Regions from separate parts of the Homo sapiens genome. Here region 2 is linked to region 1. A link means that fine-mapping ties the variant in region 1 to the expression of a gene that starts in the linked region. Tissue or cell type: lung. Region 1 holds a variant in brackets; the other region holds the start of a gene. All regions are shown on one strand. Distances are from middle to middle. Region 1 overlaps KIF6 (kinesin family member 6). Region 2 holds the start of KCNK17 (potassium two pore domain channel subfamily K member 17).

Evidence for each region. PIP is the estimated chance that this variant, and not a neighbour inherited with it, causes the effect.
Region 2: it holds the start of KCNK17, and the variant in region 1 is fine-mapped to the expression of KCNK17 in lung (TOPMed, PIP 0.98).

The regions. Positions count from the first base shown.
Region 1 is chr6:39,332,791-39,341,111 of GRCh38, forward strand. It overlaps KIF6 (kinesin family member 6), which reads right to left. Exons shown (of 23, transcript NM_145027.6): 23 at 1-3,758. The coding sequence ends at 3,742. LOC105375047 (a long non-coding RNA gene) reads left to right here. Exons shown (of 3, transcript XR_926774.3): 2 at 5,723-5,888. Among named protein-coding and RNA genes, the nearest start is that of KCNK16, 14 kb to the left of the region's middle. RefSeq lists enhancers at 3,373-3,452, 6,729-7,230. The variant T/C (reference allele first, on the strand shown) is at 4,092.
Region 2 is chr6:39,310,806-39,319,126 of GRCh38, forward strand. It overlaps KCNK17 (potassium two pore domain channel subfamily K member 17), which reads right to left and starts at 3,614. Exons shown (of 5, transcript NM_031460.4): 1 at 3,279-3,614; 2 at 88-202. The coding sequence starts at 3,515. It overlaps KCNK16 (potassium two pore domain channel subfamily K member 16), which reads right to left. Exons shown (of 5, transcript NM_001135106.2): 2 at 8,214-8,321; 3 at 6,981-7,147; 4 at 5,977-6,142; 5 at 5,366-5,637. The coding sequence ends at 5,414. LOC105375047 (a long non-coding RNA gene) reads left to right here and starts at 3,151. Exons shown (of 3, transcript XR_926774.3): 1 at 3,151-3,419.

The DNA of each region.
Region 1 (8,321 bases):
TTTTTCTCCTCTCTCTCTCCTTCTCTCTCTCTCATCCCTGGGACTCTGCCTTGCAAATTTAAGCCACTTTGTCCTCCCTGGATTCCCAGCTCCATTTCCTCAACTCAGGGAAACCACTGGGCTCTACCTGGTTCCCCCTTCCTGGGCTGCAGCCTGAAAACTCACTGCAGGCAGTAAGTTGGAGCAATCATAGGGCTCCCCTCACTTGTTTCCCTTCTCTTGCGGATCAATCATACCCTATATTGCTTGTTATCCAATGGCTGAAAACCATTGGTTTGTATAGAGGATTTTGTCTCATTTTTAGTCATTTAAAGCAGGAGGGTAAATCAGGTCCTTGTTGCTTCATCATGGCTGTAGGTGGTGGTCCTGCTTTTCCATATACAGGATGCTCTCAGTGCCTTTCCACAGGCTGCATGGAGAGACAATGAACTCTGCACTGAGAAATCCTAGATCCAGTCATATACTGTCTCTGGGTTCCAATTTCTGTGCCAGTCTGCTATTGCTACAATTAATGCTATATAACAAACCACTCTAAACCTCAGTGGTTTATGACAAGCAGCATATATTCTCATGCCAATAGGTCTTTGGGTGAGCCATAGTTCAGCTGATCTGGGCTGGGCTTGCCTGGGAGGCTCTGCTCCAGGCTGTAGACTGGGCTCAGGTCTGCTCTCTGGATGTTCCAGGCTGAAGGGGCAGCAGCTACCCATGGCATGTTCATCCCAAGAGAGATCACTGGAGCAAGAGGCAAGCTCAACCATGAGAGCACAATTCAAGCCTCTGCCTGGATCAGGTTTGCCAACACCACATTAGTCAAAGTGGGCCATGACAAAGCTTTGGATGTGTAATTCTATACTGGTGGTGAAGAATTAAAATGATGTATTCAGTATACCACAATTTCTCTATCTGCTTTCTAAAACTCCTTTTTAGCAAGATCTGGGCAAGCTACATTTTAACTTCCCTCCTCCAACCTCCGTCCACCCTACTTCTTGTCAAGGGATTGGTAGAGCCAGTTGAATTCTAGCAGGGACTGGGCTGGAGTCACTGGCTAGGCTGCTTTCCAGAAAATGTTTTTGAAAATCCCACATTTTGGCCTAGAGTGAACTCAGATACTTCTTGTCATCCGTGGCTCCACTGATCCCAGGTGGATTGCTGGAAAGTCTTTTCAAAACATTGCATCAATTTCTCCCATTTGCAGAGGCCAGTGAACTCTGGGAAGGTGCACTGCTGTCAAGCATGTGTCCATATCAAAGGCTGGGCTTCCATTAGGGGATGTTCGGAGCAAAAGGCCCCTTGGCCAGTTGCTGCACACACTTTGCATATGCTCTGGACACCAGTGGCCCCAGATCCCATGTTGTGTGTTTTTCTGTCTTCATTTCCTTTCCTGTCTTAGTGATTGCCCCAGGAGGCTGGTTCACACCCCGCATGGGGCCATGCCACACATCTCTGTCAGTAAGGCCTTTGGATCCAGGAGATGATGTCTCAGTGGGAGATCTAATGTTGAAAGACTCTGGCAGGGTATGTGGCTCATGCCTGCAATCCCAGCACTTTGGGAGGCCAAGGCGGGAGCATCGCTTAAGGCCAGGAATTTGAGACCATCCTGAGCCACACAGTGAGACCCTGTCTCTACAAAAAATTTAAAACGAGCTAGGTGTGGTGGTGCATGCCTGTAGTTCCAGCTACTTTGGAGGCTGAGGTGAGAGGATCGCTTGAGCCCAGGAGTTGGAGGCTGAGTATGGCTTGAGCCCAGGAGTTGGAGGCTGACTAGTGAGGTATGGTCGCACCACTGCACCCCAGCCTGGCTGACAGAGACCCCCCCCATCTCAAAAAATAAATAAAAGAAAGTAAAAATAAAAGAAAATAAAAGTTAGTAGACTCTACCCAGCTCTAGAGGGCTGAGGGCACTAAGGCATGCCAAGAATACTGCTGCTGCTACATAGGGGACTGGGGCAAATGCCATGCCATCTTCAGGGCTCTTGAGAGTGTGTGTGTGTATGTGTGTGTGTGTGTGCAGTTACATGTGTGTTCCATGGACTCTTGGGGAGGCTTCTAGAATCAGAATTTGGTCTTCCTCTGGTTCTACAGACTTTACAGAGGGCTTACTATGTTCCATTGAACTGTGAGGGCCAGGAGTGGACCAGAGATGCTGGCCCCTGTCCCGATGGGATTCAGTCAGAGCCTGGGGGAAGTCAGAGTGACACCAGCCTGAGAAACACATCTGGGTTCTGGCTCGTCTACTCATGAACTGAAGGACCGTTTACTGAACAGCGACTCTGTGCTTGGGACACAGCAATGAGCAAGACAAACAGGTCCCTGTTGCATTGGAGCTCTTAGTATTATGGGGGGTTGCAGGTATTTCAAAAATAGGCAAGTTCGGAAGGATAACATGTCAGATAGTGATGCAGAAAAAATGGTAATGGGATAGGGGATAACTAGGGGGTGACTCGAGATGGAGTGGTCAGGGGAAGCCCCCTGAAGAGGGGACATTTGTCAGTGGCATAGAACAGCAAGCTGAATCTCCCCTTCACTCTGGCCTTCTAATTATATAAAATAGGGGTGTGGATTAGAGGAGCTCGATGGGCCTGCCTAGCTTAGAAATGTAATGGTTTAATCTTCTCCTGCATGATCCTGTTACCCAGTCCTAAAAAACGAAAAAGAAAATCAAGCCAATTATACTATATTACCACTCTGCTCCCCTCCAGGGTCATCAGGTCCTGTATTTATAGGACAGAGACACCAGGAGCAGTGGACCAGCACTTTTATCCAGTTAGCTTCATTTCCAGGTGCCACTCCTGCTCACCCTCCGCTGCCCCTCCCTGGCTGCAGCTGGGTTGGAACCCCCTGGCCCAGGGGGCAGTTCTTCAAGAACCTCCTTGAGGGCTGCCCACCTTCCCTTGGATCTGTCATGGAGAGGGCCCATGGAGACAAGACCCCCAGGCAGCTATGTTTTTCCCTGTGGAAGTGGGGAGTGTCAGCCCAAATCCTCCCAAGTGGCTGGGTGAAGGTTGTGAGGCCCAAGGTACCCACACTGCCCTCTCTCAAGCTCTCAGCAGAGCCCCTGGGAGCTGCCCACTGTTCTCTGGGTGCTATGATGTCCTTAGACCCTGCAGGGCAGATGGCTCCCTGGAGACACAGCTGTTCAGGCACTGCCTCCAGGTCATCCTGGCCAAGAGGCTGATGGTGAAAGATGTGGTCTGGGAGATCAGGATTGGCCTTCAGGATGCCCTGCATTCCACTGCCTTGCCTGTGGCTGGGACATCCTGCCTGGACCTGTCATGGCCATTTCTGGGCTTCCAAACCAGAGCACGGGCCAAGGGAGAGAGCTGGCAAATCGTTAAAAATAAAAATATTCCCCCCACATTCCACTGGTGTGAGCATCCTCTGACATTATATTTTGATGGTGCTATTTCACATTCTCAAAAGCTTATAAAGATCTACACAAAACGTCACTACAACAGTGAGCTGAAGCCTTCACCCTGCCCCTAGCACTCTGGCCTTGCCTGGCCCTGCCAGCAGCTCCAGCAACCACAGGAAGGATGTTGTGGTCAGCCCCAGCCCCAGCCTCTCGGTGGCCTCCAGGTCAGCATCCTTAAAGAAACACAGTCCCCTCCATGGGAATCAAAGTCACTAGTTGCTCCCAGCAGCCCATAGTTCACTTCTGAAGCCAGAGCAAGTGAGGGGCGCTGCCTTCATCTGTGCTTCATTCTTGCTGGCATAATTCATGGATGGATATTTCCTGGAAATTCAATTGCTTCCCAAACCTGAAAGGGAGACAGGATGCTTTTGGTTAGGCTGTGCATGCAGACACTGACTTTTCCCAGGATTGAATCGGGGGGAGGGGAGGCCACCAGCCACTCCCCCTGGGTCTTGGGCACTGCATCTGTGTCTTGCCTCCCAGGAGCTGCATTTATACCCCAAGCTCTGAAGGAAGAGGCCCCCTTTGCCCTTTGCAGAAGCTCCATCTCCCTAGGCTGAGACTGACGCCTGTTTTCCTACCCCACCGTTTTCTTTCCTTTTCTTTCTTTCTTTTTTTTGATGGAGTCTCGCTCTGTCACCGAGGCTGGAGTCTTGTCTTTTCCTTCCTTCCTTTCTTC[T/C]GTCCTTCCTTCCCTTCCTTCCCTTTCTTCCCTTTCTTCCCTTTCTCTTCTTTCTTTCTTTTTCTTTCTCTTTCTTCTCTTTCATTCTTTCTCTCTTTCTCTCCCCTTCTTTCCTTCCTTTCTTCCCTCCCTCCCTCCCTTCCTTCCTTTCTTTTCCTTCCTTCCTTTTTCTTTCTTTCTTTCTTTCTCTTTCCTTTCTTTCCTTCTTTCCTTTCTTTCTTCTTTCTTCTCTTTCTTTCTTTCTTTCCTCCTTCCTTCCTTCCTTTCTCTTTCTTTTCTTTCTTTCCTTCCTTCTTTCTTTCTTTCTTTCTTTCTTTCTTTCTTTCTTTCTTTCTTTCTTTCTTTCTTTCTTTCTTTTTCTTTCTTTTCTTTCCCTCCCTCCCTCCAGCCTCCCCTCCCTTCCCCTCTTCCTTCCTTCCTTCCTTCTTTCTTTTTCTTTCTTTTCTTTCTGGACGGAGTCTTGCTCTGTTACCCAGGCTGGAGTGCAGTGGCACAATCTCGGCTCACTGCAACCTCTGCCTCCGGGGTTCAAGTGATTCTCCTGCCTCAGCCTCCCAAGTATCTGGAATTACAGGCACCCACCACCACGTCTGGCTAATTTTTGTATTTTTACTAGAGATGGGGTTTCACCATGTTGTCCAGGCTGGTCTCAAATTCCTGAGCTTAAGTGATCCTTCACCTCAGCCTCCCAAAGTGCTGGGATTACAGGTGTGAGCTACCACACCTGGACAACCCCATGGTTTTCATTGATGCTCCTACCTAATCCTCAGATTCTCTCCTTGCTTTTTCCTCCAGATATTAATTATATTCCAGGATGGCTCCTCCTGACCATGTGGCCCCTATCCTGTCATCTCCCATGGCTGGGCATGGAGAGGGTTCTCTGGATTGAGAACCAGGGCCCTTGCGTTCTAGCCAGGACAGTCCCCAACCCACGGTGTGACTTTGGGCAAGTCATGTCAGTTCTCTGGGCCTAACATTTCTCTTTGCTGGAGCAGATGAGATACCTGGAAAAAGCAAGGTGGCTTCTTGCTTCACAAAATGTGGTCCATGGACCAGCAGTGCTGGCATTTCCAGGGAGCTTGTTAAGAAAGGCAGAGTCTAAGACATGGTCCACCCTGGACTTACTGGATCAGAATCTACAGTTTGACAAAACCTGTCGATTCATTAGCACATTAAAATGTGAGAACTGGTAAGAGTGATATGCAGTTATTTTGCTTAAAGTTTGGCTAATTTAGTAAGAGCAAGAGAGAATTTCTGAGATTCTTGGATGAAGTAATAAATACAATGTTTAAAAAAATTTCAGTGGACAGAGAGCCTGAGGGGTGAGGCTGCTCAGGGAACAGGTGAGCAGGCAGCTGCAGCCCTCCAGGTTCGGCCACAGGAACCTGGTACTGGGTGACGAGTGTTAGCTTGGTTGGCTTGATATTGCTGTGGAAGAAAGGGTAATTCTTGGTGATACATTGAATGGCCAGCTAGTGCGGAGGAAGAGATTGGAAATAATTCACGGCTGTGAGCCCTTGGTCTTTCAGTTCTAATTCTGTGTGCAAGACCTCTGGCAGGCCTTGCTGTTTAATTAAACAAATATGGTCCTTATTTTTAAGACATTCTGATCTGTCTGAATTGAATTCTAGAACGGGAAGTAAGAAGACAAGTACACCGAGCCTATGATGGTCATGTGTTCCTGTCACTCTGGACTTGTGGTTCCCAGCTCTGCTACACAACGGAAATCTCTGGAGAATCTCTAGACATCCTGGTGCCCAGACCACAGCCCAGAACCATTCAGTCAGGATCACTGGGGTGGGTCCAGGTGATTCTGAGGCATGGCCATGGCTGAAACTCACTGCTTTTGTCTCTCTAGTACAAGGACTGGCAGGGCAAGAGCTGGGGGCCCGTGGGCACGTGGCTGCTGATGAGATCTGGGCTCTGATGTTTCTGCTGCACTGTTGAAATGCAGCCTGGGCCAGGATTGTGAACGCTGCCGGTGGTAGGGAGCATGGAGTCTGAGCCATCTCCCACCCAGGATGGTCTCTGAGCCCCTCACACACTTGCATGCAGTAATGACAGGGGGTGGGTGGGGTGGGGCCTGGGAAGAAATGCTACAGAATAGGGGGGAGAGCACGCTCTGCCCCAAGACATAGCTCCTTACATGCACAGACCTCAACACAAAAGGCACCATTTCAAACTCATTCACTTTATGGGCCCCAGTTAAGTGATGAAGCTCTGTCTGTATTGGGGTTTTGATTACCGTGGGCTCCCAGAAAGGAGGGCACACTACAGATGTACCATTAAGAAAAAGCAAAATCACACCTCATGGTGTTGGGCCAGCTCTCACCACAGAGGCCACTTCCCTGTTAATAATTCCTTGGTGCTTGGGAGTTGATAAGGGACTTTAATGGAGATTATCTGGGAAAGGATCAGAGCCTGGGCAAGGGTGGAATCTGTACATGACAGACAGTGAGAGGGAGGCTTGGGGAGGTGACCTGCCCAGTGTCACGCAGAGCAGAGATGGCCTTGGAATTTCCGCCTTTTCCCTCCCAGCTCGGGGCTCTTTCTCTTTCCCTGGGAGGGTTTCTGAACACAGAAGAGAGCTGGAGGGTTTCTCTGAGTGGGGCTGGAGGGCTGGGAGAGGCAGGACCTCTTCCTAACACCTCTTGGAGAAGACAGACTTGTGGTTATGGGGGTCGCACCATGGTTCCTTTCCAGATGGGAATACTTCCAAACTCAGGGATTAAGCAAGATTAAAAACAAAAAGGCCCTCTAGAAAGGGGTTAACCTCATTTCCTCAGACATAAAAACTGTCCTTGGCAGTTGGAAACAGCAGAGTTGACTCCACGGATGACTGATGCCCCTTACGGGTGTTATATACCTGTCCACGCCTGCCCCTGGCAGGGATTTAAACATTCCATGCTGTTCCATGAATCCTAAATCAAATAGATTCATCCTGGCCCTTGGTGAAGCCTAAGAGCTGGCGAGGCTTATGTTAAATTGCCCTCTCTGGGCTCCTGCTCCTGAGCTGACAGTCACAAATTCCCCTTAATGAGCACTCCTGAAGTAACCAAGGCAGCGCTGTGAGCTAAATTAAGATTCGAGAGCCCAGGCAGGGAGAGGGAGGTGTTTGCTTTGGCTGAGAAGGTGCCTGGGCCCCGGCCTGTGTGTTTGCCTGGGTGCCCTGATAAGTGGGCTGCATATTAAGTGCCACATGGTGGGACCAGAACCATCTGCTGTATGTCTGAGAGGTCACGCCTGCTGGCCCTTTGGGACCTGGTGGCAGAGGGACCCCGTGTCAACCTGTCTTTGGCTTCCTTTGTGGCCCCGTGGTCACTGAAAAGCCAGAATGAATATTCTTCCTTTCGGAATAAAAATTGAGCTGTGGAAGTTTTGTTTGCTTTGATGAATTACTTCCAGGCTGCTGTTTATTTGGAGAGCAAAGCTCCCCAGCTGCAGGGTGGGTAGAGGCTGCGGTCACTCCCCTCGTCAATGCTGGTTCCTGTTCCTGAGGCCGAGAGAACTCCTGACAGCAGAGTGGGCATATCTTGGTAGTTGCAGCTTTTCAAGACAGTGTGGCCCAGTGGGGAGAGAGCAGAAAACCTGGGTTATGCTGGCTCTGCCATTTATCAGCTGTGTAACCTTGGGCAAGTGATACAACCTCTGTGTGCCTCAGTTTCCTTTCCTCACCTGTCCACAGGGGATCATAATCTTGGCCCTGCATGCCTTACAGGAGCGTTAAGAGCATCAAATGAAACAATAAAAATGAAAACATTTATAAATGGTAGTTTGCCATACATATTTTAATAAAAGTGCCTGCCCTTCAATCCAGCTCTCTGCACTGCCTGGGGACAGTGTTAGCAGGAGGACACCACTCTGACAGGGACCTGGACTTCCGCCTCTTCTGTTTGGAGAGAGTTAGATGATCACATCTCTTATATGTACAAAAGCTTAGTGAATGTAACTTAAAGATATTGCTTGCTTGTAGGCTTCTTGAGGGGAGGAATGATGGTTGGTTTCTATGGATTTGTTACAGGGGAAGGGATATCTCAGCTCAAAGGATATCCTGCGTATCCAAGCCTTCCTCCACTTGTGCCCCACACACTGTCCCCTCTACTTTCTCAAGGAAGTTTTTCCTGCAGCTCTGCTCCCCTCTCCCACCACAGCATCAGTTTCCCTCTCTATGCATGTTTCAGCACGTGAGCATGTCTTAAAGCATCCCTCTGGGCTCCTGCTTCCCTTTAG
Region 2 (8,321 bases), 22 kb before region 1:
TCCCTCCAAAAGGCAACTAGCCTGTTGCCTCTCAGGGAGCTGCCTCCTTCCCCCACCCCCATCCCCCTGGCCCCATCTGGCCCTTACCAATGGTGGTGATGGTGGACACAGAAAAGAAGAAGGAGCCCACGAGCTCCCAGCGCCCCATGCTGGTGGTGTTGCTGAGGAGGCTGGCTCCGTTTTTGTATGCTTGGACGACATCCTGGGGAAGAGGCTGCAATGACCACCAGGCTCTGTGGGGTGATGGATTTCCTGTACCCCAAGATGCACACACACACACACACACACACACACACACACACACACACACACACAAACAAACCTACACACACAGCCCTCACAATTACTCTTCGATCCCAGCCCACCAGGGCAAGGAGGCTCTACCCCTCTCACCAAGGGCTCACCAGGTACAGCTACTGACAGCTACCATGGGGACAGCTCCTTCCCCACCCTTTACCCAGTGGCTAGGTCAGGTTGGAGTCCTAGTAAACCAGCGACTCATTTTCTCCCCTGCTCACTCCCATTCCTGCAACAAACACTAGGCCAGGCGTGATGTGTGGTGCTTTTAGGGGACGTGACCACAAGAGACATGACCCCAGCCCTCAGTGGTACATAGATAAACCTAATTAACTCTAATATGATGCAGTCAATGTCACTTTGGGCATTAAGGAGGAAGTGCAGCTACACAATCCTGGGCAAGGTGCTCAACTTCTCTCTGTGCCTCAGTTTCCTTACCTGTATAATGGTAATACAAATAGTACCTACTTCATAGAGTTGTTGTGTTAAATAAGGTATTATGTGTAGACTTAGTACCTGGCACATGGTGTTAGCAGTTGCTATATTGCCTATATGCATTATATAGGCATATAATGTTGTAGGACTCTGGGGAAGAAGGATGTTCATTCTCATTTGGGTAGGAGCAGAGGCCTCATGGAGAATGGGATGTTTTAGCTGGGCCTTTGAGGGTCAGGTAGGATTGCTTCTGGTGGAAGGATGTTTAGGTAGATGGGACAGCAGTGCAGAAGGTGGGAGGTGAGACTGCCTGGGACCTAGATTAGGGAGACTGGTAAGAAGTGATTGAGGCCAAGCTGTGCTTGGCTTTGCCATGCCAGGGATGAAGTCGCAGGTATCAGCCAAGGTCACTGAGCAAAGGGGAAGTAGGATCAGGTTTGTGTGCTCTGTGGCAGCTGGCAGTATAGAAAGGGTTGACCAGAGGGGAGAGACTCCTGCAGAAGTGAGTGATAGACGGGCCCTGGCCTGTCTCCTGGCACAGGTGGTCCAGGAGGAACAGAGAGGAGATATTCAGAAGCCCAGGCCTCTGGCCCTATTTAGTATGGGCAGTAAAGGAGATGTTGCAGAGGATTGTGAGGGTGTGTGGACATGGGGCAGACAATCGAGATTTAGGACAGGTGGAGAAGCAGGGCTGGGAGGAGGAGGACCACTTGCTCTTGGCCTTGAGGAATTTCAGAAGTTGCATGTCCACATCTGGTGCTCAGAAAGATCTGGGCTGGATACCACATCCTTATTCCTGGAGTTGGCTGAAGCCACAGGAGTGTTGAGGAAGGGGGTGAGGTGGGGGTGGAGGGAGTTGAAGGGAAAGCCCAAAGAGATGACAGCCTGGCTGGGAATCTTGGGAAGCACCCACATCCACAGGTCCACACTGAGGCAGTATTTATGCTGGTTAACAGCTCCAGCTCCTGGCTATGTAGCCATGCATTCGTATGTAACCTCTCTGAGCCTGTTTCTTCACCTCTGAAACAGGATGATAAAAACAGTACCCACCTGTGAGGGTGAAACAGGATGATAAAAACAGTACCCACCTGTGAGGGAGGTGAGACAAATGAATACGGGTAAAGTACCAGCAACAGTGCTTGGCACACGATAAGTGCTGCACAGAGGCATTTACTGTTATTATAATCACCATCATAGCCATCTCCCTGGGCCCAGGCTGCTTGTAGTCGAAGTTCACCACCTTTGCAAGGGTAATGGCAGGCAGCCTCAGCACCAGGACCCAGCAGTCGGGCTGTATTTGCAGAAGTCCGCAGGTGGGGAGCTGGAGGAATCACTTTAGGTCCTTAGTAGAGATAGGCCTGGCCCTGGCTACCTCCTGACCTCACCGAATCGGCCTAGTCCGAGGGTTCAGAACACCACTTCCGCTCCGCGCTGGGTCCCTTCCCACCCTGGCACGGTTCCCTGCCACCTTCCGGGGATTGGCTTTGGACTGGAGACTCTGGACGGATAAGCCACCAGGACTGCAAGACGGGGATTCTGGGCTGGCGCGCAGCTGTCTGGACTCTGGGCTCTTGGACGAAGGGGTGGGGAACCAAGCCAGGACCCAGGACATCAATGCCTCCGCCAAATCGAGCAGCTGCCAGTCTGGCGTCGCTTCAGTCCTAAGATGCGCCACCCCTAGAACCCTCCCCGGCCTCCTCCGCCCTGCTAGGCCCCACCCTTGAGGAGCCTCTGCTCAGATTTACCTCTGAGTCCTCCCCTGAACCCTGCCTTCAGCCTTTCTGGGCAGCCGCGCGGCGGCGGCGCGCCCAGTCCTTGTGTCCGAAGACTCGGAGTAAAGCGGGTTCAGCCAGAGAGCGGCCCTGCGTCCGCCCTCCTCTCGAACCCGGGTCTGCGCACGTCGAGCCCCCTCTCTGCGTTGAGGGTGGCCCCGACCAGCACGCCTCGGGCCCAATCCACCCACCCTCCGGGACAAACGCGCCTTCCCCCAGGCTCCTACGGCCGCGCCCTCGCTCCTGCGCATCCTTAGACCCGGCGCCCCTGCCGTCCCAGCTCCCAGTTCGCAAACGTGCGCCCGGGTTCCCCCTCTGGAAGCGGCCAGGTGTGGCGTTTAGCTCTTTGCCACGGGTGCGGGTGCGACCAACCCCCAAGCAGGCTCAAACGCGCCCTTTCCCGGGTCAGGCCGGGCGGGGCCGGTTACGCGCGCGCCCCCTGCCGTAGTCGTCCTCGCCCCCAAATTTGGATGTGTCCCCAGGCATCTGCCTCCTCACCGGGCCAGCATGCCCTCTCGCCCCCAAGTAGGACTCAGCCCGGCTTCTCGCAGTCCTCTCGCTAGGGCGAGGGTCTTTTCCTCCGAGGTCCCCCAACCCTCTGGTCCCCGCGCAGGAACGCCCACCCCCGTTGTGCCCGCGTCTGCGTTCCCGACGTTTCCCTGAACAGGAAACACCTGACCAGGGCCTGAATAGGCCCCCTCGCCCTCGGCCCGTACACCCCGCGGCCCGCTACCCCATCCCGCCGCGCCCAGGCCGACGCCGCTCGCCCCTGACCCGGATCAGCGAGTCCAGCGCCGGGCGGTCCAGACACGTGAAGTTCTGCAACAGCTCCCACTTGTCGCGCTGGAAGCTGCGGCTGGAGTCCTGCGCCGCGCGGCCCTCCAGCGTCCAGAACACGCCGGTGCCCAGCGCCAGGTAAGCCAGGTAGGCGAGCAGCAGGAGCACGGTGCTGGGCACCGCGCAGCCCCGGACCCTGCCCTCGGGAGCCGCCCGGGCTCGCGGTCGGTACATAGCGGGAGAGGCGGGGAGCCGGCGCCGGGAGCGGTGGACTAGGACCCGGTGGGAGGGAAGGGCCAGGCGTCCAGCTCGTATCTCCTCTCGCAAACGCCTGCTGGTGCCCGGTTTCGCCGGGGAGGAGGAGTGTTGGGGAATGGGACAGCCTGGCCCCACCCAGCCCTGGGATCCAATCCCCGGGACAAAAAGAGGCTCTGAACTGTGGGCATCTGGCCCCGCCTCAAATGTGTGCGGGGTGCCCACCTGCTAGGCCTAGGCCAGGGAGAAGGAGGAAGCTGCTGGGTGACCGCAGGCGCTGAGGGAAGGGGCCCAGAGCCCCCTCACATTTCCTGAAATGAACAATGGGAGGGACTTCTGGAAACCGCACTCAGAGGTAGGAGATAGTAGAGACCAACTTTATTGTCTTGGGGCCCCTGCCTAAGTTCTTGGACTCGGGGGCTATCTCCAAGGACTTGCTGTCTGTCAATCTCAAGACCACCTTGGGTCTCCCACACCTCTGTCCTTTCCTTTGTACCCCAAAAGAGGGACCCCAGCTGATTGCCACTTGTCCATGAGCTTGGGAGGTAAGAGGAGCCTTAACCAAGAGGCTTGTCCACTCCTTGCTTCTGAGAAGGCCCCCGAAATCCCTCTACCTGGAGTGGAGGAAGCGTCTAGGCTGTGTGAAGAGTCCGTGGGTCCTCAGCTTCCCAGTCCTTTCTTGGATATGGGGAAGTCCTGGGGTGTGACTTGGACTCCTCTTGCTGCTGTAGAGCCTCTCCTGGGTCTCCTGCCTGGAGCCGCCTTGGCTCCACAGCCTTGCCTCAGACCTGTGCAGAGGAACCCAGCCACATAGGAGCCCACTTGCTGTTGGATGATGGGAGAGGCAAAGGCCAAAATTTCCAGGCCCCGGGATGGAGTGGTCTAAATCTCTCCTGGTCAGGGATGTTGCAGTCTGGCAGGGGAAAGGCCAGACCTGGAGAATGCATTCCTGAGAGAGGCCAGACGTTCATGGAGCTCACTTTCTGGAAGGATCCTGGGATCTGCTGGCTCTCTGGCTTCCCATGGGGTGTTTGGAAAGGCTCTTGAGAAGGCAGGAGCCCAGAGGGAGTGATGAAGTTAAGGGGGTGGCCTGTGAGGGTCAGGGGAGGCCATGTTCAGGAAAGTGGGTAGGACACCCAAGAGGTCCTAAGCTTTGTTCACAGACAGCCCTGGACTTCTAGGCAAGGGGAGCTGGCGAGCTTTGAGAGGCAGCTCGCCTGCCCCTCGGCTGAGAGCTTCCTGAGGGCAGAGATCCTCTTTTCACTAAGATTGTTCCAAAGTCTCTGCCCAGGTCTCCCCTCTCTTTGATGCTCCCTGCCAGCCATTCCCATGGGCTCTCATCAACCCTGGGGCTATTCCCATCATAGCATTTTGGGCACTGTGTTGGGGCTGCCTCTTTGCTTGCCTAGCAACTAAAGGCACATCAAGGGCAGGCACTTCCACTGCTGTATCCCCAGACCCTGGCACAGACCCTGGCACAGCACCTGGCACATAGTAGGGGCTTGGCAAATGCACTGTGCACATATCAAATGAGGCAAAAGTAAAGTCATCCTTTGTTTGTGTAAGGTCTCCTGGAAGGGGGCATGGGGAGGGCAGTGGAGATCTGGCCACTACCTTTGGGTGGAAGGCTGTGGCAGGGGCTCTGGGACAAGGGTACACCTCCCCATCCACACATGTCTTTAATCCTATCTCACGTCTCCTCTCTGTTACTTTCTTGGATATACCTGTCTCCTTTCTCTCTTGGGAGAGCTCCTGAGACCAGCCCTGGCTGAGAAGTGAGGGGGTTGGGAGAGGAGAAAGCAGGGCTGGAAATCCAGAGAGCAGATAGGGTGGGACTGGGGAGGATGAAAGGGGTTTCTGGGCCCCCCCCGGGGGCCTCATGCAGAGATGGGGATCTTCTGAGGCCTGGGGAGCCCACTGGGGTCAGAGGCTGCCCCATCCTTGACGCCGAGGCCCCTACTGAGCAGCCAGAGCTGGCAGCATCTGTGCAGAAGCAGGGGGCCCAGTGGGAGGATCAGCGCCAGCCACGCCAGGCCCAGGAGGATCCAGATGGCTGCCAGGCTCCGATACACTGAGATATAATGCTTGCTGGGGTCTGTGCCTGCCAGGGAAGGGAATGGCATCAATGCCAGGGGTCTCAGGGCATAGCCACCTCCAGTTTCCATAGGGACCCTCACCAGCCAGGATGCTCTCTCCCTCTTCCTCATAACAAGGAACAGCAGTTGAGGTAGGTCTCTGCAGGGTGGTGATGGGTCCTAGACCAGAAACTTCTGAGAATGTTGCTTAGAATCCACAGTAGTCCCAGAAATCATTGGTTTGGCTCCCTTGAATGACCAAGGGCTATCTTATCCTCAATAGTTGTCCTCAGCTGACATCTCTCCATCCCCCAAATCCCAGTGGGCACCCCCACCCTGAGATAATGTGACTGTTTTGTTCTCACCAACAACATAGTCCCCAAAGCCAATGGTGCTGAGAGTGATGAAAGCAAAGTAGAAGCCCTCGCTGAAGCTCCAGCCCTCCACATGGCTGAAGACCATGGGTGGGAAGATGAGAATGACCAGCGTCCCCAGGGTCAGGAACAGAGCCAGGCCCAGGACTTGCAGTACCTAGGAGGGAGGGAGTTGGCCTCTGAGTCCACTTGAAAGTCTCCAGGATTGTATGAGGTTGGGGGGAGTCTGGGGTAAACATGGGAATGGGACTGGGCCATAGCTAGGACCCTTTCCTGCACTGCAGACCCTCGAGGTGGAGGTTGTATCTATGTGTGCATGACCTTGTCCCACCCAGGGAAAGATTTCGGCAGAGGGATTGCGTTAGTGGGTCAAGAAGCGATTTGGAGACCCCTTTGGACTTGGGGATCACACTTGAACAGGCTCCCTGGGGACTCAGATCTGGAACAGAAAAGTATCATTGAACTGTCTGCGTATTTCTGGCCTTGCAAGTGGCTGGCCAAGGGTGGGCACTGAGGGCATGCTGGGCAGCCTGCAGAGCTTGTTTGCTACTGCACAAAAGGATGTTGGAGTTCTGTGATGACCTTGAAGATGTGCTACAGAGATCCCTCACTTAAAGGAGGACGGTGGGCCAGCTGCCAGCTCCTTCAGGGTGTTCAGCTGCAGAGAACCTCCTGGCCTAGGGGCATACCCTTCCTGGGAAGGCCACACCCAGTGCCTGATTGAGGCAGGTATGAAAACCTGGCTGGTTCCGCCCACTGTGGGACAACTCTGACAGCTCTCACATGCTGTAGAGCTCCTTGGGGCCAAGCCTTTGTAGAGCATGCATAGAGATCCAACTCCCCACTCTGCCCAACCCTGCCTTCACCCTTCCTCTTTCACAGGCATCTACCCCTAACACCATGCATGCCAAACTCCATCTCAGCATCGGCTTCTGGGGAACTCCACTTGCAACAGATCTGTCACAGCAGGCCTGTAAGGGAGTTAGGGGGCATACCTGGGAGCGCCTGGGACGGTCCTCCCATCTTTCAATGGCGGCCAGATGGGCACGCAGCCCTGTGCCCAGGTGGTTGAGGAAGATCACGTTAAGCGGGATGCCCAACAGGGCATAGAAGACACAGAAGACCTGACCTGCCTCTGTGCTGGGTGCCAGGTTCCCATATCCTGCAAGGGAAGGGGGGCGTGTGCAAATATGGAGACTCTAGAACGCCCTCTGCTCCTCTTCCCCAGACTCTAGCTGAGGTTTGTCTGTCACCACCTCTGGGGGTGAGAAGGGGAAGCTCCCCTGTTCCCATGAACTCTGCTGGAATGATTTTTATTTATAGGACTCCTGCTCATCTTTGAAGGCCCATCTCAAATGACTCTGCCTCCATGAAGCCCTCCTGACTGCCGATTTCCTTCTCCCTTCTGGGTGTGGTTCCCCATAGTGTTTTATGTCATTGCTATGTAATTATCGACTTTGTTTTCTATTACTTTTTTTTGTGTATTTATCATGTTCCTCTTTGTTGGACTGGAAGTTCCTTGCAGGCTGAGCCTGGGTCTGATCCAAGTTTGTATCTCTCACCCCCAACTCCATCACTCTGCCTGGAATGTCACCTGAGTTCAAGGAAAGTATGTGGAATTGGACTTAACTGAATGGATGGGGTAGACCTGGATCTGATGGTTTCCTTGGGGTGGGATGGAGTGAGTTTTCTGGCCGAGGGGGTGTAGCAGCTGCTGTCAGTGCCCTGTTCCCTCAGAACACATGAGATACCACCTGAAGCTTTGGTGGACAGTTCCTGTATACAAATCAACCCCCGCTCCCAGTTTCTGCACATCTCTCTCTACCTGAGAGATTCTTCTGGCCAAAGGAGTATGCTTGGTCTATGGGAAGTTTCAAAATGCTGGGGAACTAATATACTCGGGACCAGCTCTCAACCTTTGAGGGCAGGAGTTGGTAGCTAAATGGCCCCTCATTCTTGTCCCTCGCTGGACCGTTCTGAGGAAGGGCTCTATCTAGCCTCTCAGAGGGTCCCAAGGAGAAGTGAGCTCAGTCACCCAAGCCAGTAATCTGCTAATTAATGCAAATTTCATTGCCACCTTCTCCCTACTGTTTCACTTACCCACTCCCTCCCTGGGCTTCCTGAATAATCTCCTAGACAAACCACATCCTTGTCTCAGCATCTGCTTTTGGGGAGCCCAAACTAAGACAGGGGCCTTGGGGAAGCTCTTCTCTACCCCAGCCCTTTACCTATGGTAGTGACGACTGTGCCTGCAAAGAAGAAACTGCTGCCAAAGTCCCAGTTGCTGGGGTTGGTAGAGTTGCCTTTGGGGTTCACACCTTTCACCCAGGCTTCCA